6 linked regions of the Homo sapiens genome follow. The protein of the gene in region 5 interacts with the protein of the main gene of each other region in a pairwise test. Each region holds a gene or a part of one and is shown on either strand. Other genes may lie near its edges.

Region 1 (2,286 bases), on a different chromosome or scaffold from region 5:
TACTAGATTATAAAACTATTCCTTTGGTTATGTCTCATTAAAAAATAGTTTCTTTAAAATGGAAGATTCAAAATGAAGGATATAGTAACAAGCATTCATTTATTTTAGGAGATATGCACAAGAAGGCTTCGGAAAATTAAATTTTTTCTTTGTTATGTGACAGACAGCAGGCAATGCATAACCCAACATATAAATGATAGGTACTTAATTTAGTATTGAGAATTACTCAGCACAACATAAATTCTTCCCCTAGAAGCAAAGGAGGAAACTGAAATTTATTAAAAAGCTTACTTTTCTAAAACAATTGAGCTTTGAATTGGCAAAGAAACCTCTCTAGAAATTGTAAGAAAAATATCTCCCAAAGAATTTAATTGTTAGCTTTCATGCAAACTGAAACAAAAACTATTGGTAAGAAATTTTAAATATTAAATGATTGACATAAACACCAGGTTTCTCTTCTGGATTAAATGTGTTTATTAGGTGAACAGAGAAAAAAGCTCCATCATAAAAGTCATCAAGGCAGATGATGTGACACCATCATTCTGATGAAAGGAGAACTGACAGGTGAATTTTACCTTATCCCGTTTCATGATGGAAATTCAAGATATTTGTAGGTTAGATGGTAGCTCAACAACAGACCATATTAGACTTCCATTGCAGGATATCATCACTCAAGGGAAAATCTCAGAACATGTGGGCTTCAGAATTAGTGAATCTCAGTATCACAGGATAGAGGGTGAGAGTCTCCCATGGCATCCTCAATAATAGTAGCCAGAGCCAGAGCCGCATCCATAGCCATAGCCACAGAGGGAGCGGGAGCCATAGCCATAGCCACAGCCCAGTCTGCGGAAGCCACAGCCACAGCAGGAGCCATAGCCACAGCCCAGGCCTCCATAGCCATAGCCCAGGCCTCCATAGCCACAGAACCCATAGCCAGGGGTGCCATAGTAGTTTCCGTAGTAGCTGCCACACATGGTGTTGGTTGTGGAGGTTGTCCTTGGGTAGGAGGAAGTGTAGGTGACTTCAGTATGAACACTTCCCCTGCAGAGGGCCTTTTATATGCCTCAGTGTGGGTGGGAACCATACACAAGTCATGCCATTGGCTAATTTGAAGGACCAGCATGAGTAATTTGTTGACTCTTGGTTTTCAATCGTGGCCTTGTGGCATTTAGAACATTTTCTATTGTTCAGCCACATCTGAAACATTTGTGCATCTTTAATGAGCATCAACTGTCTGATCTTTAAAACTCTACTCACACCAGACATTCAAATTACCATTTTCCAACCAGCCTTTATGGCAAGAAATAGCATTTTAGTAAACAAACTGACCTGTTCTAAACAACCAATAATTTTACCTTATTTTTGCTGACATTCAACAGGTCATGGTAATCTCCCTTGAGCTTGAGTTTCTCCATCTCTTTCCTGCTGCTCCAAACCCATTGTTTTCCTTTAGGAATTCTTCTCATTTTCACATGAGAGATGGTTTTCTTTTAAAAGCCAGAAAGTGTCACTCAGCTTCCAGAGACTGTTGACACAAAGCCAATAGTTTGAAATTCTAAAATACCAGGCATGAGAAAACTATACTTTTCTTTCTCACATCAATATTTCCTTTTGTGACTGTTTTAAAACAATAGTTCTTTCCCATAGTTTCAAATTCGTAATCAATGAGGTTTCATTTTATTTATAAAATTGTATTTTTATAAAAATTTTCCTGAAATTTCAAGGCATTTGTTATATTTGTGTTCTGGCTCAAAAGTAAGTATAGGTATTTTCATATTTAAAACAATAATACTGGCAGAAGTATCTTTTCATGCAACCTACTATATTTCCACCATCAAACAAGAAGTCTTTGGCAAAATATGAGACTATGAGGAACATGTTACTATAGCCTAATCTTTTTTCAAAGCAGTGAAGATCAGAGCTAAATTGAATGATTAAGTCAAGTAGCCCTCTGGACTTATATTCTTAGTAAGATGACTTTATAAGAGTGAGTTGAATATAGTAAATAAGAGTAAAATATCTGTAATGTGCTTTCTAGGCTCAAATTTTACCTCTACTATCCATAGCTGTCTGACCACTGTTAACTACATGCTTCAGCTGCCCTATCTGCAAATGGGATTGTAATAATGATACCTACCCCACAAGGAAATTTAGAAAATCAAATCTTTTGATACATACCAGACACTTTGAATAGTGTTTGGTTCATAGTAGGAACCAGAATACTAGAATAAATTTTGCTGTCTTTACTTATTTCATCCCATCCCTGTTTTTCTGGATAGAAGCTTC
Region 2 (3,604 bases), on a different chromosome or scaffold from region 5:
ACCTCAGGGTTCAGGTGATTCTTCCACCTCAGCCTCCCAAGTAGCTGGGACTACAGGTGTGCACTATGATGCCTGACTAATTTTTTTTTATTCTTTGTAGAGATGGGGGTCTCCCTACATTGCCTAGGCTGGTCTCACCTGAGCTCAAGCAATCCTCCTGCCTCAGCCTCCCAAAGTGTTAGGATTACAGATGTGAGTCACCATGTTTGGCCGACTTTTATAGTTTTGAATTTGAGCCATGTAAATGTATTTCCTGGCCAGGCGTGGTGGCTCACGCCTGTAATCCCAGCACTTTGGGAGGCCAAGGTGGGCGAATCATGAGGCTGGGAGTTCAAGACCAGCCTGGCCAACATGGTGAAACCCTGTCTCTACTAAAAAATACAAAAATTAGGCCAGGCGCAGTGGCTTATGCCTGTAATCCCAGGTAGCAGCACGTGACCAAGGCAATGCCAAAGTGCAGCCCACGGCAGCACTTTGGGAGGCCAAGGTGGTGGATCATGAGGTCAGGAGTTTGAGACCAGCCTGGCCAACATGGTGAAACCCCATCTCTACTAAAAATAGAAAAATTAGCCAGGCGTGGTGGCGTGGGCCTGTAATCCCAGCTACTTGGGAGGCTGAGACAGGAGAATCACTTGAACCCGGGAGGTGGAGGTTGCAGTGAGCTGAGATCACACCACTGCACTTCAGCCTGGCCAACAGAACAAGACTCCGTCACGGGAGAAAAAAAAAATTAGCCGGGCGTGGTGGTGCATACCTGTAATCCCAGCTACTGGGAAGGCTGAGGCAGGAGAATCGCTTGAACCCAGGAGGCAGAGGTTGTAATGAGCCGAGATTGTGCCACTACACTCCAGCCTGGGTGACAGAGCAAGACTCTGTCTCAAAAAAAAGTATTTTGTAATCAGAAATGTACATTTAAGGAAATAAATACCTGCTTAAAAACACAGCTTGTTTCTAAAAATTATAGTTAAGAAAATCAACTAATCTCATAATCCATGGCTCTCGTACATTCACAGATGAGAGATATGATCTTGTTCATTCACTTAACACTGGGTGCTAGGAAGAGAAGTAGGTTAGACAGCAGTCTTGCCGTCAGGATCTTCCAGTCAATTTGGAGGGCAGATGAGTAATAAAATCACGTCCAAGGCTAGGTGCAGTGGCCCACACCTGTAATCCTAGCACTTTGGAAGGCCATGGTGGGAAGACTGCTTGAACCCAAAAGTTCAAGACCAGCTTGGGCAACATAGTGAGACCCTGTCTCTACAAAAAAAAATTTTTTTTTAATTAGCTGGGTGTGGTGGTGGATGCCTGTAGTCCCAGCTACTTGGGAGGCTGAGGTGGGAAGATTGCTTGAGCCTGGGAGGTTGAGGCTTCAGTGAGCCATGTTTGTGCCACTGCACTCCAGCCTGGTGACAGAGTAAAGACTCTCTCAAAAAAAAAAAAAAAAATCACATACAGTGTGATCAGCCCTACTATACAGAGAAGCATGGGCCTCTAGGAACCCAGAGAGGCCTCTCTCCTGGGCTGGTGGGTCAAGAGAGGTCTTCCTAGAAGAGGTGGTGTCTACACTGAGACCTGAAAGTGAGGCAGAGTTAGCCAGGTGACACGGAGAGTCATACTGCGGTTCAGTGGTTCTCAAACTTGAGCAAGCATTGAGATCATCTGGAGGCCTGTTTCAACATACATTGCTGGGCCCTACTCCCAAAGTAGCTCATTCAGAAGGTCTGAATCTGCATTTCTATCCAGTTCCCAGGTGAAGTTGATGCCGCTGTCCAGTAACCCCTGTTCTGGGGTGAGGGAAGAGGCAAAAGAACATGCTGCATGTTCCCCAAGAACACGGTGGAGAATGAGCGTGACTGCAAAAAAAAGTGAAAAGTTAAAAAAAAAAAAAAAATAGGCCGGGCGTGGTGGCTCACACCTGTAATCCCAGCACTTTGGGAGGCCGAGGCAGGCAGGTCACCTGAGGTCAGGAGTTTGAGACCAGCCTGACCAACATGGTGAAACCCCGTCTCTACTAAAACTACAAAAATTAGCCGGGCGTGGTGGCACACGCCTGTAATCCCAGCTACTCAGGAGTCTGAGGCAGGAGAGTTGCTTGAACCCAGGAGGCAAAGGTTGCGGTGAGCTGAGATAGTGTCATTGCACTCCGGCCTGGGCGACAAGAGTGAAACTCCGTCTCAAAAATAAATAAATAAATAAAAATAAGGTGAGGTTAGTAGAGGCCCTATTGTGAAGGGCTCTACGAGCATCATATGGCAGAGGTGGTTAGTGGTCCCCAGTTTCAGGTCTCCCCTCCTTACATAGGATTAGAACCTGAGATTTTCAGCTGAGCACAAGGACACCTAGAATAAACTGCATTTCCTGTCTCCCTTGTATCCTTGTATCAGCATATGGCTAGTAGGACACAAGTGGAAGTGTTGTGTACAATGCCCAGGACAGTGTTCTTAAAGGGAGGGCCCAACTTCCTCATTTCCTCCTTTCCTGTATGCTGGAATGTGGACCTAACTGCTGGAGCTCCAGCATCTACCTTGGCTTCAGAAGTACCACATACAGTAGAGCAAGAGAGGAGCCTAGGTCCCTGACACATGGAGTTGTCAGGCCAGACCTCCAGGTTTTTTACACAGGAGAGAAATAAACATCTATTGAAGGCTGGGCGCAGTGGCTCATGCCTGTAATCCCAGCACTTTGGGAGGCCGAGGCAGGCAGATCACAAGGTCAGGAGATCGAGACCATCTTGGCCAACATGGTGAAACCCCATCTCTACTAAACATACAAAAATTAGGTGGGCATGGTGGTGCATGCCTGTAGTCCCAGCTACTCGGGAGGCTGAGGCAGGAGAATCACTTGAGCCTGGGAGGCAGAGGTTGTAGTGAGCTGAGATCTCGCCACTGCACTCCAGCCTGGGGACAGAGCAAGACTCTGTCTCAAAAAAAGAGAAAAAGAAGAAAAAAACGTCTATTTCATTTTAGCTATTAAGTGGCTGTTTCTATATTACAGCTGAGCCTAATCCTAATTAACACACAATAGGATTTGGAATTATCCAAAGGCAGTGGGGAGCCACTGAAGGATTTCAGCAGGGGAACATCATGCTTTTAGGGTGGATTTGAAAGTACAAGACGGGGCAGTGAGACTAGCTAGGAGGCCCACACAAGCACGAGTCCAGGCAGGAGAAGGTGACCTGGACTAGGGGGTGCTAGATGGAGACGCGAAGTTAAGGGCTCATAGGAGGAAGATCAAGAGGACTCAGTGGCAGACTGGATGGACTGGATGGATTGGATGTGAGGGGTGAAGGAGAGGGTGGAATCGAGGTGAGGTCCAGCCTTTGGCTCCTGCAATGAGGAGGGATGATGGCTTCATGTCCTGAGCTGGGGGAGAAGCCTGTATTTTGGGGACTGTGGAAGAAAACTGTTAAGTATTTCAGACCCTTATGTCTTGGCAGTGTCATGAAAAGTGGGTTTATACTGTGGAATAGTGGCAGTGCAGCCACTAACAATGAAGACAGTGCTAGTGGGAGGATAAAAGGTACCACCTCTGAGGAGTGCATTTTGACAATATCAAAATGAAAAACAGGCTGGGTGCAGTGCTTCATGCCTGTAATCCCAGTACT
Region 3 (3,604 bases), about 120 Mb from region 5:
GATTATAGGCATGAGCCTGTCCTGGTCTTTGTGATTTTTACACTACCTTTTTTGTCACATGGTACCTCTTAGCAGAATTCTAATCCTAAAGTTGAATTTCTAAGGCAGATCACCCCCAAGGGTGCCTGAGGATCACGGGGCTGGTGCCTGGTGTTACTGGCCCGTTTTCCGGATGAGGGAGTAGAGGCTGGGCCCCTGTGAAGCCCTCCTTGCATGAGGTGACTACAGAGGAGTGGACCTCCAGAGCCTGGTGACACCCTCTCCCACCACACAGACTACAGCTGGGTCTAGGGTGTGACGAGCTGGCAGAGAAGCCGCCCCAGAGCGATAGCCACTTCCGGAGGACAAGGATCTCTCCACCGGCTCAGGAAAACAAGCCAGTTTAAGGGAAACCCAAATGGCTTTGGGGGGCGGGGGCATAAAATGTGCAGGACTCCCTCAGGCCTTGCCATGCAGACCTTTTCAGGAGGACTGCCAGGGGAAGACGGCTGCTCACTTCTGCCCCACGGCCAGGCCTGTGACAGCCGCTCCTGTCAGCGCAGTCCTCTGCGGGGCCGACGCTGTGTAAATAATTAACAAAACATCTGCCTTGCTTCATAACACACCGTGGCTGACACAGCTCTCAGGGCCTTCAGAGACCCTCCAATGCCACGCCGAGGACTTATGGCCTCGCTTTGTGGGGACAGGTGGGAACGAGAGCAGATACTGACAGGCAAACATTTTCCTGAGGCGCCACAGGGCCACCCTGGTGCTTAAATCCTGCCTCTTTGCAAACTGCGCTGTCTCCTTCCCTTCCGTTTTGGGAGCCATGATCCTAGGAAGGTGCTCTGGTGGAATCCAGAGGGGTCCCCGGCACCTGCTTCTGGCCTTGTTTAGGGCCTCAATGCAGGGGCACTGGAGACACTCTGGGCCACGGACCAAGGGTCCCGGCTGAGTGACCCTGGGTGGGTCCTTGGTCATTAAAGATTTTCCATGTCTCTCATGTAATCTTGGGGAATGAGCATCAAGCACTTAAAAGGCGCTGAGCATCTGAAATGCATTATTTCACTTACTTCCTCCCCCGAAGCTTCTGAGGTCATAATATTATCCCTGTTTTCCAGATGATGACGCTGAGGCTCAGTGGGCGACGTGCTCATGAGAGGCAGGTCTGGGACTCCAGCCTCATTCACTCCATCGGGTGCCCAGGCTCAGGCTCTCAATGCGGCTGTGGGGGAGCGCCTTGCTCCCTCTGAGCCTCAGGTTCTGTTCCGTGAAACAGATGGGTGGCAAGAGTCCTTCAGACTCCAAAAGTCCACAATAAATAAACCCAGTGCTCGTCTCAACCCCAGTGGGTGTGTGCGAAGCTCTCTGGATTGGGAGCCCAGTGAATTCCTCATCAGCAGCTTGATTCATTAGAGCTGAAGGTCATGTGCATCCATCCTTTTGCAGGTGTCTTCCCAACAAGCCCAAGTTTCAAAGACGTTGAGGACAAGGAACAAGAGAGGGCAGGCATTCGAGAAGGGGCCTGTGGACTAATTCCCATACTGCCACTCACCTGCAGTAAGAACGCGCCTCTGGAACATGGAGAAGTTCTTCTTAAAGGGATCTCTGTTCACCCAGGTCAACATGACCCACCCCGCAAGCCTCAGCCTAATTCTGAAGCATGAGGGTTAAACAATTCGGGGAAAATGCAGGCACTGCAGGCTCTGAATGGCAACTTCCCTCCCCCTTCCCCTGTCCAAATTCCTTCACACTCTATGGAATTCCTACATAAAGCCCCTTTTTTCTTAGAATTCTATGAGGTCACCACCATGCAGATGTCTAAGAGAAAGAAAGAACGGCTCCGTGCAGATCCAGGCCACTGCAACTGAATGCATTTCAGATCTCGGCCACCCCATCTTTCAATTCCCATGGCCCCCCCACTCGCCCAGCCACAGCTACAGCGGTGGTGGCCAGTCAGGTCTGGTGGGGTGCTGTGATCCTGCCCTTGCTGGAGGCCAAGAAGGCCTGGCTAGAAGACCTGTGCCTTTACCACCAGATCACCCGAGAAGTCATCTGTGGAAAAATCCAGAATTGGAGACAATGGCGCAGCCATGTATGTGGGGGTCTGTTTCCACACAAGCAAGTCCTGTTAGAGGGACACATGTCAAAATGCTAGCTCCCACTCCAAGTTCAAGTTCCCAAAGTTAACATCACAGGAAATTACACCACCAACTGATTTGCCCCAATGTCGGCTCCTCTGTCTGGAAGTCGAGTCTGAGAAGGCCATTGGTTTAGTTCAGCTTTGGCCAAAGGAAGGGACCAGCTCAGACAGGAATGAGTGAAAGTGCTGGCCTGATTTTTTTTCTTTTTAAACTAACATTTTCCCCAAAAGTTATCTTGCCATTACCCAAGAGTCATAAGTGAAAAGACAGCCAAATACCAAAAAGCCACTGAGGCCCTCAACAGTGCCTGCTCATTTCAAAGCCATTTCACGGACAGCCAGGGGGTGCCTGGGCCACCGCAGACCACCCCTCACTCCAAGAGCACTCCTGCTCCCCAGAGCTCCATGTTCCATGTAAAGTTCCACGGCATGTGCACACCACTTCCTAAGAATGATGTCAGCAAAAAAAAAAAAAGATAAAAATGTGGAAAAAAGGACTATTTTTACCTCCCCAAATCACAGGCCAGACGGGAGAAAAATCCATCAATGCCAGAAATGTGGCTGAGCCTTCGCACAAGATCTATTATTTCACACCTTAAATTAACGCATCTCAAAGCAATTTGCAAATGTTCGTCAATTTGCAGAACATACATGGAAGGGAGAGAAATACCTTTTCCTTTCAACACCGAAGGACACTGGCAGGGGGGCACAACATGGCCCAAACCACACAGGTCCTCACACACAACATTCATTTCAAGCACATGTAGTAGAAGCCGTGATCGAAATGGAAATGAGCAGGGAAAAAAGGCAGGCAGGGGACTTAAATGACAAGTGACAAGAAGCCTACCTACAAGCGATCTCGCTGTCAGATATTTAGGACTGTGAGTCAGGCCCGTGAAGGTGACATCAGGGGGCCAGAACACCGGACTCTTCCTGCGAACAGTGTCCCAGCCTCATCTCCACACAAGCCTGGCAGTGCCTGCCCGTATTTAATCTTGGATGATTCACCAGGTCCCTCCACTCTCCACCCTCCAACTCCCTTGCTTGGTCTAGCCTGAGAAGAGGAAGGAAATATTCTTCTCCTTTTGACAATTGTTTTGACACTTCCCTTATGAAAAGTATCTGGGGCACTTAAAGAAAAGAAAAAATGTGAACAGCAGCCCTTTCTCTCCAGTAGCTCTGGCCCTGGGCGAGGAAGGCCAGCAGTGCCTTCTGGAAGACCTCTCCCAGGTCTCGGGCAACCCAGCCCTGCAGGAACCTAGCCTGTCTTAACCTACTTGGCTTTGCAGCATGCAACAGGAGCAAAGCACGACAAAGGCAGCCAGATGTGGTTTAAGGTGAGGAACTCTGGAATCAGAGACATGGGTTCGAATCCCGACTCTGCCATTTGTGGGTTTATGACCCTGCCCAAGTTACTTAACCTCCCTCTCTGTAAGATCAGGAAAACGACACTGAACCTCAGCACAGGCCAGGCATCCAGCC
Region 4 (3,604 bases), on a different chromosome or scaffold from region 5:
ATGGGGATAGGACCATTAGACCAATCAGCCCTCACTCCTGCAGCTGAGCCATGGAGTCAGTATCACCTACACTACTGTCTGGTACAGGGCGGTGGTGGCCGTGGTGGCTCCCTAAAAGAAAGTCTGGGAGGCAGGAGAATGAATACTGGGCAAGCAAGCAATATCCACTACACTTATCTTTTATTGCTGGCAATCTAATTTTTTAAGCCAATATATAATTTACATACAATAAAAATATCCTTTTAAAATGCCAAAATACATATGTCTGAGGACTAGCTTTCCTGGGCTGAAACCTCTGCTCCCTACGTGCTCTGCAGAATTCAGGGGACAAGTTCCAAGTGATGCCATATTTCTACTCACTCACACATAAAGGTCCTCTGTTTTCCCAGGATGAAAGCCAGTGTTATTTGGAAGAGGCCTAGGCACAGGGTGCTAGAAAGGTTTTCCTCACTCAAGACATACTTGCAGGTGTGGATCGATCTCAAATATGGTCTCTCCCCTCCGCATGTCAGTTATCAGCCAGGGGCCGCCAGCACTGTGGACAAGGAAAGGGGATACAATGGTAACTGAGGGTCTGGGGCTGATGGGCTGGGCCTACAGCCTGCCCTGTTTGCTGCCCCAGGCCTAGGACACAGGGGAATAGTTCGTGGTCAGGGACTGTCAGGGAGTGAGTCGTCAGGAAGCCCTGATGTGAAAAACCAGGGTCTGAAATAACAACGCAAGAGGGAGCCCCACATGGAGGGTAGTGGAGGGACTCCCACCCCCAGGCCCAGGGAGCCGCGCTCCCACCTTGCATGGGTACTCACATAGGCACTGTCCGCAGCAGCTCCAGGATGCCCTGCCCGTTCCACTGCTGGGCTGAGTGTAGCTCTTCAGTGCAGACACCAACGATCTGAGGCCCAGGATAGAAAGCCCATTGTGTGTTAATGGCCACCCCCCACCCCAAGAAGGTCAGCTACCCAGGCTCTCTGAGTCACCTCCAGTTGGGAGACCACAGGCAGGATCTGTGCTCAGGAGCTGGTGCAGCCAAGATTGGATGATTCCCTTAGGAGGGAGTGGCTGCCTGGCTGGGAAATGGCTGGGTCCACATGTGGGCCCTGAGGCCTGACCCTTGCCCTTGCTGTGTCTGGATGACACCAAGTCTAGCTCTTAGCTACAAAGGAGAAAACCAAGGCCTGAGCAACTCAAGATGTGTCCTCAGGCCATGTCTCTGGAAGTAGGGGAGGTTCAGGGAGCCATTCCTACCCAGTCTGGTATCATGGGGAATGTAAACAAGAGACTTTGAGACCTATCAGGCTTGGAACCACCACCAATAGGTCATAGCAGCCTGCAGAGAAACTCCTCCCTTCCTTATTAGGGGATAGGCCTTTGTGTAAATATCAAGGGAATCAGTGGAACCTTCACATAGACTTCGTGACCAAAAACAAGCACTGGTCAAAGCTGGGCAGGTTCCCACAGCTTCTGGCAAAGAGCAAGGACGACCCAGAGCTGGCTTCCCGCTGGAAAGTCCTGTTCCTGAGACTGGGTCTTCACTGTTCAAAGAATACCCGCCACCCCATTACTCCCTCTCAGCTACAGCCATTCTCTCCCAACCAAATGCCCCCTTCCCTTTCTCCCCTCTCCCATCTCAGCAGGTTAAATCAGACCATCTGAATCTACCTGACAAACCATCAGAGGAAACAGAAATCAGGACGAGGCCAAAGGAAACCTCCCACTCCCTTCACTCCCCCTCCTCAAGCCTCCTTGTCCTCCCAGGACCCTTCCCACAGGAAGGCTTGAGCCAGCGTCCAACCTGTGCCTCACCTGGAGGAAGGTAACTACCCCAAAGGGTGTCTGCACGGGCTGCATCTGTGGGTCCTCTGTCAGCAGCATGTGCTGAATTCTTGACTCACTGTTATCCAAAGGGCTGTGCCAGGACACATGGTCCCCACTGCAGAAGGTGTTCTCTGTGGGAGAGATACAAGGATCCTCATTGTTCAAGGCCCCAGATCCAGGCCTGGAATCTGGGCTGGGATCTCACTAGCCCAGGCTGGGAGGCTTCCCAGCCTCTTAGGGTAGCCCCTGTGAAGGAAGAGAAGCATTCACTCCGGATGGAAGCAAAGAGTTTGTGGATATTTCCAAAAACCTAAATTGTTCCTGCTTGCCAGTTCTGTCAGACTTGAAAAGGACAGGCTATTAGTGTGAAAGCTCCTTCGGCCTGGGAAACCAGAAAGACTTCTGGCATCTGCTTCGCTTCCCCAATATCCCGACTCATGGTGGGAGGCAGGAGCCATGACTGGATCTGCCAAGAAAGAATAAGGTGCTTTTCTGTAGGGCCACCTGGCCAGAAGTCCACAGAGAGGCAACAGGGCAATGAAAGCCCTTCACCTTGGAGAAACAGACCGAAATTCCTATGTTGCTGAAATGGCACTCAGAAGGAAACATCGAACCTTGGAGAGCCTTTGAAATCTATCACCATTTTCCCACAGGCAGATGTAGGAATTCCTGAGGAACACTAGGCTTCAAGTAAATGGAGGTCTAAATAGTGCCTCCCACACCGTGGCAGAGACAACTCATGAGGATCCTCAGGCCATGTCTCTGAGATGTTCAGATTCTGCCAAGGGTAGCTGTTGCCATGAGGGCATAGCCTCCTCACACACAGGCTCACCACTGCACTTCAAGCAGGTACGTTACTTTAGAGAGAGTTTTGTTTAAGGCCACATAACCACAAGGGAAAACAACCCCACAGGGTACTAAGTCTCTCACCAGCTCTGACTCTCATCGTGGGTGCCAAGGTGCTCTATATGTCCAGCCTATGCATCCACAGGCTCCCTTCCATGTTTTGTCCTTACACAAATGGAAGCACACTATTCTGCAGATTTCACTTAATTATATATCTTAGACAGCACCTTTTTTTTTTTAATATGGAACACTTCACGAATTTGCATGTCATCCTTGCGCAGGGGCCATACTAATCTTCTCTGTATCGTTCCAATTTTAGTATATGTGCTGCTGAAGTGAGCACGAGATCACCTTTTTTTTTTTTTTTTGAGATGGAGTCTCGCTCTGTTGCCAGGCTGCAGTGCAGTGGCGCGATCTCTGCTCACTGCAACCTCCGCCTCCTGGGTTCAAGCGATTCTCCTGCCTCAGCCTCCTGAGTAGCTGGGATTACTGGCATGTGCCACCACACCTGGCTAATTTTTTGTATTTTTAGTAGAGGTGGGATTTCACGGTGTTAGCCAGGATGGCCTCGATCTCCTGACCTCGTGATCCGCCCTCCTCGGCCTCCCAAAGTGCGGGGATTACAAGTATGAGCCACAGCACCCAGCAGAGATCACTGCTTCTCAGCATATGGAGAGCTATCTCATTCTTTAAATGGCTGTTCCAGAGTTCACTATGGTCTGTCATTCACGATCTCGGAATCTCAACAGTTGAGGTATCTTTCTTCACTTTTTATCAATATTTAAGGTAAGGCAGAACACACACATACACACACAGACACACCTTTTCCATCCAAGATACGGCTTCAGTTATTGGTCCTAACCTCAATAGTGTTCATTCAGGCAGGAGAAGGAAGACTGCTTCATCTGAGATGTGATAATACAGGGGAGAGGAGAAGGCACAG
Region 5 (2,325 bases):
CGTCCCTTCCAGTTTGTATCTTCTCTTAAAACAATTCTCAAGTCTTAAAAAAAAAAAAAAAAAAAAAAAAAAGCAGCAAGAAAACAGTCAACTTTCTAAGATTGGTCCTTGAGATGTGATCTCTTTTGGATTCACATGCTTGGCTAGCAGGTAAACCAGATGTGAGAATATTTTGACACATCCCCCCATAGATGGGAGCTGAGGAAGAAAGCTCATCACAGCCAATGGGACAGGTGGTATTCTAAAGCGTGCACAGTGGACAGGATGAGGAAACCAGGGAAATGGTACCTGCCCCTTTCTCCAGGGAATCAGATTATATGATCAGGGCATCAGATCATGGGAAGCTGATGCTTGTGTCTTTCTCTGAAGGGTTTGGGAAAACAGGGCTGAAAAGACCCCCTCCTCCAACTGTCAGCTTGCTGAAACCCCAGCACTGGGAGTACCAAGCACTAGAGGCATTTCTGAAGCATGATGTAGCGCTACTTTGAAAAGGCACAAATAAACCCCAAATCCTAGCACACATTTATCCGGTTTGTGAAGCAGATTAATAGAATAACCAATAAAACATGTATAAAAGCTTTAATTAAATCTGATGAAATAAAACTTCATGTTTTATTTATGGACACTCCCAACATGTAAAGGACTCAGGGAGACATTCATTTTTACTGCCATTTCCTCCTCATATCTATAATTAAATCCAGGCTACAGCTCTGGCCCAAAGCAATGCAGCATTTTAAAGCTGGACTTGAACATTCCCTCCCGCATCATCTGCCTTTAATTATAATTACCATTCCCAGTATGTAAGAGGCTGATGGTAAAACAAAACAAAAAAACAAACAAACAAACAATGATGGTTGCCATTGTGTTTTAAACCGACAGGCTGAAGGAGGATTTTAGGCAGGAGGGCGTCTTCTCTATTTCCAGTTTTATTCTGTACCAAGTGCACAATCCCTTCATTTTACTTTTGACATAAAAAAAGGACTTCATGAACAAGACAAAATAACTTATGATTATATGAAACATAACTGTGACAAATCACAAAACTATACATATTAATAGAAAAAAGTGTACCTAATTCTTTAAAAGATTTATGACAATAAGCACCAGATGTGCCTCTAGAGTAAAATCGGCCCCATATCCAGTATGATATATGCAGTTCATTTCTCTACGTGAGTGTATATAACTATGTACAAGAGTCTGTGTGATTTATGGAAAACAGATTTCCACTTTTTTCCCCCAAAGTGCTTTATGTCAGCAACATTACACAGGATACTTTGCTGTCTGTACAAAATAAATCTCTTTTTACACTCACTATTTCTCCAATGAGTGCTTTTTTTTTTTTGCTTCATCTGTTGCAAAAAAAAAAAAAAATAATAACCGCAGAAATTCCACACCACTAACAAAAAGTGCTATTTAAAAATGCTTCCATAAAATGACATGGCCAAGACAGTCAAATAAAATACCAAATAATTAAATTGAAAATGTACAGTTACTATTCCCAATACTTCAAGGCAACTGGAAAGTCAAGGTTCTCAGATGAGGGAGTTGAATTTATCCTTGCTCAAAATTGGTTTTAGGGGCTACTGTGCTTGACGGCTGGTAATTTAGAAACAACTGAACAAAGCCAACACTCTTATCAGTGGTAACTCTGCTGTGATCTACTAAAGACCTTTTTTTTTCTTCTTATTTTATGATCGCTTATGTAATTTGAGGGCGACATGGGTAATGGGAGATACCCCACAGGACCTGTAAATATTTAAATAATATTTAACAGCTGATCAGAGGCTAAATTACAACTGACATTTTGATGCAGTTTCGTTAGGGAATTAAGACAATGCAGCCAATGAAATGTCTCTAGGCAGACTGATTTTTTTTTTAATGCAATAGGATAATTGTCTTTGCGCTGTGTGTTTTCACAAGCACTAGTTTTGTGTTTTGTTTCTGTTTTTAAGGGGAATGACAATCTCTGTTTGGACATTTATGAAAATGGTTACATATCAAGACTTAAAAAGACCAGGACATGAAAGGGAATGATTTTTTTGAAGTTTCCACTTGTACTGCTGCAAAAATAATGATGAATATATATATAAATCTTCTGCAGTGTGAAAGTAAGCAAGGGACAAATTTTAAGGTCAGGAAAGACTCTCGAATCTAAGCATAGTGTGTGTAGTCTGGAAGGCATCTGAACGTGTCCTATCCTGAGGCTGCAATCTCAAGCCTGCAGCTATCAGGAAAGACCCACGGTGCGGGAAGCAGGGCTGCACTGGGTCCTGTGGCCAGCATGCTCTCTCTGAGATAAAATGTCCCTCTGGGGCTCCACATTGA
Region 6 (3,604 bases), on a different chromosome or scaffold from region 5:
CATGTAGGCTCTGCTGTAGAACACTTTCTTTCTGCTAGAGGAATTAGTCATCTTTGCAGTAAGTTCTGCAGTACAGGATCATAAACATGTGAAAGGCATGAAGAACAGCCCAGAGCGTTTAATTCACACAGCTGGTAGGAGGAAGAAACAGCTCCCTAATGACAAATGCATCTGTGGGCGGGAGGGGACTTGGGATTGTGCTGGAACTGGATTTCTGAATTGCTACTACATCTTTTTTCCTCTCATCCAGGTCTCTTCAGAGCTGCTGTGCCCAGTGGTGCTTCAACTGGTATCTATGAGGCCCTAGAGCTCCGGGACAATGATAAGACTCGCTATATGGGGAAGGGTAAGCCTTAGAACCCACAGCCCATGGCCTCCCTGCTTCCAGCCCCATTCCTGGCCTTGCCCAGTCCTGTCCTCTCTGGGTGGCACTTGCACTTGCAGGTTTATGGCAGGTAAACCTGCTGTGACCCATGATGTTGATGGAAGCAGTGCACCACCTTGTGGACAGGAAAGTTGGTGTGTGGATTCCGGGGTTCCCGAGCCTGCATGCTCTGGGTCGAGAGTTCCAATGCTTGCTTCTATTGCAGTTTGTTCCCAATCTGCGAAATACTCCTTCACGGTTAGGACAGGAACCCAAGCATGAGAACAGGGCCTGTTAACTAAAGAAAAGTTTCCCCATCTCCCAGGAGGGTTCTGTGGGCCCTCCAGAGATCATCAGCCTCTTCACGGGCTAGAAAGGATCCAGGGAAGGTCTAACCAATGACCTGCCCTGAATGGTGAGCTGCAGGTGTGTCATTTAGTGTGATTTTCCTGTTGACTGACTCATAGGAGCCCTGCTCTGTGGCAGAGCTAGCCTCTGGCTGTATTCAAATTGACTTAGTGTGTGTGCAACATTGACCTTTCTAGAGATAGAACATGTGGCCAAATTACAGAAAAGCACATAGGGCTAGATCACGCATTCTCAGTGGGGCACCCGGAAAACTCCAAAAAGGCTGCAGGGAGGGGACAATGATGAAATCAGGTTGTGAAACACTGGGCTGGTGTCGCAGTGGTGGTGCTGGGTGTTCAGTCCCGCTTTAATGCTGTAAGAAGCACTCTACACACACGAACATGTTACCATTTGACCGTTGTTTAATGGCGTACGTGGGGACTTAGCCGGAGCAGGATGATGCTGTGCCTTGATGGTAATGAGTGCTCAGTAAGTAAGCATTTGTGGAAGATTGAACGCATGGCCCCTGAAATGCTCTCCTCTGCTTTCCTGCCCCCTCACTGTCTCTCACTCGCAGTCCTTAATCACCGGTTCTCTTCTGAGTCTCTCTCATTTTTCCTTCTTCATCCTCTGCTGGGCAGGCGTCTCCAGACCCATTAAGTATATTAATGAGTTCCTGGCACCAGCCCTGTGCACTCAGGTAACTGATTGAACAGCCTTTAGTCTGCAGTTGGCGTTTCCAGTGCATGGTCTTGCAAACTAACCTCCAGTCAGATCGTTCTGAGCCAGCTGCTGTTTTGTGTGGCTCTAACCCTCTGGGGTCCTAGGTAGGAGCACTCAGACTGGGCCGGAAAGTCCTCCGATTCTGGGGGGAAAGGGGAGAGGGGGAAGAGGTCCCACAGAAGGTCCCTTGGTGGGCTTCCGCGTCGGCCTCAACAGTGGTTCTCTCTAACAATGCTGCTCAAGCCTGTTTTAAAGTTAATGTCAGTAATTTGATTTGATTGTTCCTTCCAGGTGTCTCAAAGGCTGTTGAGCACATCAATAAAACTATTGCGCCTGCCCTGGTTAGCAAGGTAGGACCTGCCTCCTGATAACTAATGTGTCTAATGCCACCAGAGCGTCTCCCAGGCCCAGGGGCTTTCCTGTTTATGGAAGAGCTTATTCTGAGAGCTGTAGAAGCCTATTGGATTCCCTGTCACGCACGAGAACAATCCATGCATGACATAATTCTAACCTGCCCGCTGCCTCACCCCACTTTTGGGAGCAGATGGAATTGCATCAGAAGAATGAGACACTTCGAGCCCTGAGGTTTCTTCCCCCCTGCAACTCTCTGGACCTTTGAAGAAATTAAGATCCAGATTTTAAGAGTGGCTCTCAGGGGTGTTTGTGGTAGTGTCCATGGTGACTAATTTCTCATGAACTTTGGAATTATTTACTATAATTCTACTGACTTTAACAGTGGAGTTCCTGTTAAGTAAAATCTGGAAATCTCAGTATGTCAAACATAAAAGAGCTGCTGGAGGTGAAGTAGGGCTGGGGACCCAGCAACCCACCCGACTCTGCAGGTTTTATCTCATTTACCCTCCCTTCGGCCCGTCCCTCCGTAATTCCTGTGGCGCTCATCAGATGGGACTGGTTTGAAAACCCCTGTCTAAAAACACTCCGGGCCAGGTGCAGTGGCTCACACCTGTAATCCCAGCACTTTGGGAAGCTGAGGTGTGTGGATCACTTGAGGTCAGGAGTTGGAGACCAGTCTAGCCAACATGGTGAAACCCTATCTCTACTAAAAGTACAAAAATTGGCCGGGCATGGTGGTGCACGCCTGTAGTCCCAGCTACTTGGGAGTCTGAGACATGAGAATCGCTTGAAGCTGGGAGGCAGAGGTTGCAGTGAGCAGAGATTGTGCCACTGCACTCCAGCCTGGGCAACAGAGTGAGACTCTGTCTCAAAAAATAAAAATAACAAAGCTCTCTAGGCCCAGTCCAAGCCCAGCCACAGCCTCCGTCTATTCTTGAATCTAGTCCCTCTCCTCCATGAATTCATTCTGTACACGAGGGAAAAGGAGGAGTTCCTTTGTTGTCTCTGTCCCTGACTCGTTGGTTTAGGCCTGGCTTTTGTGGCACTCTGTAATTACTCCCTGCCCGACCAGCCCCCAGACAAAATGTCTTGTTACCGTTCTGTCTGCACCACCCCCTGCCAGTCTCCCGGACACCTCCACACATACCTTGTTCTCTGTCCCTTCATACCCCTGCATAGTGTGACTCACACGATGAGCAGGATCCCCTGACTTTTTTTTAACCCCCTAGAGAAACATACCAAACTGTTAGTGAGAATTGACCTCTGAAGCTGTGTGCTTGGGTAACTGCCTGCCTGTTGCAGTGATGCCTTGACAAAGCTGTGAAAGACACCAAATTGCTCATACAGCATGATGGGATCAGAGTTGATTTTCTTTGCATATTTTTTTATATCAAGCACATCATAGATAAAAATAATGCCTTGTTATTAATATATTAGTTTAAAATGGAATGCTGATTTTTGGCTGGGTGCAGTGGCTAACGCCTGTAATTCCAACACTTTAGGAGGACTTTAGGAGGCTGAGGTGGGCAGATCCCTTGAGGCCAGGAGTTTGAGACCAGCCTGGGCAACATGGCAAAGCCCATCTCTATAAAAAAAAAATATAAAAATTAGCCAGGCATGATGGTGCATGCCTATAGTCCCAGCTGAGTTTGGAGGATCATTTGAGCCCACGAGGTGGAGGTTGCAGTGAGCTGAGATCGTGACACTGCATTCCTGCCTTGGCAACAGAATGAGACTCTGTCTTAAAAAATAAAAATTAAAAAATTAAAAAGTAATACTGATTTTTATTGGATTACTTTGAGCCAGTTCTCAGTA

The links.
Region 1: the proteins of GLIS3 (region 5) and KRTAP6-1 interact in binary tests that used the Homo sapiens proteins (3 or more experiments, as listed by UniProt).
Region 2: the proteins of GLIS3 (region 5) and TRIB3 interact in binary tests that used the Homo sapiens proteins (3 or more experiments, as listed by UniProt).
Region 3: the proteins of GLIS3 (region 5) and NEK6 interact in binary tests that used the Homo sapiens proteins (3 or more experiments, as listed by UniProt).
Region 4: the proteins of GLIS3 (region 5) and SUFU interact in binary tests that used the Homo sapiens proteins (3 or more experiments, as listed by UniProt).
Region 6: the proteins of GLIS3 (region 5) and ENO1 interact in a two-hybrid assay, tested with the Homo sapiens proteins (one large-scale study listed by BioGRID and IntAct).

What each region holds. Positions count from the first base shown.
Region 1 is NC_000021.9:30,612,931-30,615,216, forward strand, and holds KRTAP6-1 (keratin-associated protein 6-1), read right to left. Parts: upstream 1,001-2,286; 5' UTR 975-1,000; coding exon 759-974; 3' UTR 501-758; downstream 1-500. UniProt on the Homo sapiens protein: In the hair cortex, hair keratin intermediate filaments are embedded in an interfilamentous matrix, consisting of hair keratin-associated proteins (KRTAP), which are essential for the formation of a rigid and resistant hair shaft through their extensive disulfide bond cross-linking with abundant cysteine residues of hair keratins.
Region 2 is NC_000020.11:383,702-387,305, reverse strand, and holds part of TRIB3 (tribbles homolog 3), read right to left. Parts: intron 1-3,604. UniProt on the Homo sapiens protein: Inactive protein kinase which acts as a regulator of the integrated stress response (ISR), a process for adaptation to various stress. Inhibits the transcriptional activity of DDIT3/CHOP and is involved in DDIT3/CHOP-dependent cell death during ER stress.
Region 3 is NC_000009.12:124,260,949-124,264,552, reverse strand, and holds part of NEK6 (serine/threonine-protein kinase Nek6), read right to left. Parts: intron 3,460-3,604; exon of another isoform or gene 3,385-3,459; intron 3,086-3,384; exon of another isoform or gene 2,970-3,085; intron 1,638-2,969; exon of another isoform or gene 1,608-1,637; coding exon of another isoform or gene 1,535-1,607; intron 1,529-1,534; exon of another isoform or gene 1,053-1,528; intron 1-1,052. UniProt on the Homo sapiens protein: Protein kinase which plays an important role in mitotic cell cycle progression. Required for chromosome segregation at metaphase-anaphase transition, robust mitotic spindle formation and cytokinesis.
Region 4 is NC_000010.11:102,590,924-102,594,527, reverse strand, and holds part of SUFU (suppressor of fused homolog), read right to left. Parts: intron 1,947-3,604; coding exon 1,804-1,946; intron 893-1,803; coding exon 807-892; intron 536-806; coding exon 463-535; intron 1-462. UniProt on the Homo sapiens protein: Negative regulator in the hedgehog/smoothened signaling pathway. Down-regulates GLI1-mediated transactivation of target genes. Down-regulates GLI2-mediated transactivation of target genes. Part of a corepressor complex that acts on DNA-bound GLI1.
Region 5 is NC_000009.12:3,823,565-3,825,889, forward strand, and holds the end of GLIS3 (zinc finger protein GLIS3), read right to left. Parts: 3' UTR 563-2,325; downstream 1-562. UniProt on the Homo sapiens protein: Acts both as a repressor and an activator of transcription. Binds to the consensus sequence 5'-GACCACCCAC-3'.
Region 6 is NC_000001.11:8,868,633-8,872,236, reverse strand, and holds part of ENO1 (alpha-enolase), read left to right. Parts: intron 1-250; coding exon 251-346; exon of another isoform or gene 347-1,353; coding exon of another isoform or gene 1,354-1,412; exon of another isoform or gene 1,413-1,726; coding exon 1,727-1,785; intron 1,786-3,604. UniProt on the Homo sapiens protein: Glycolytic enzyme the catalyzes the conversion of 2-phosphoglycerate to phosphoenolpyruvate. In addition to glycolysis, involved in various processes such as growth control, hypoxia tolerance and allergic responses.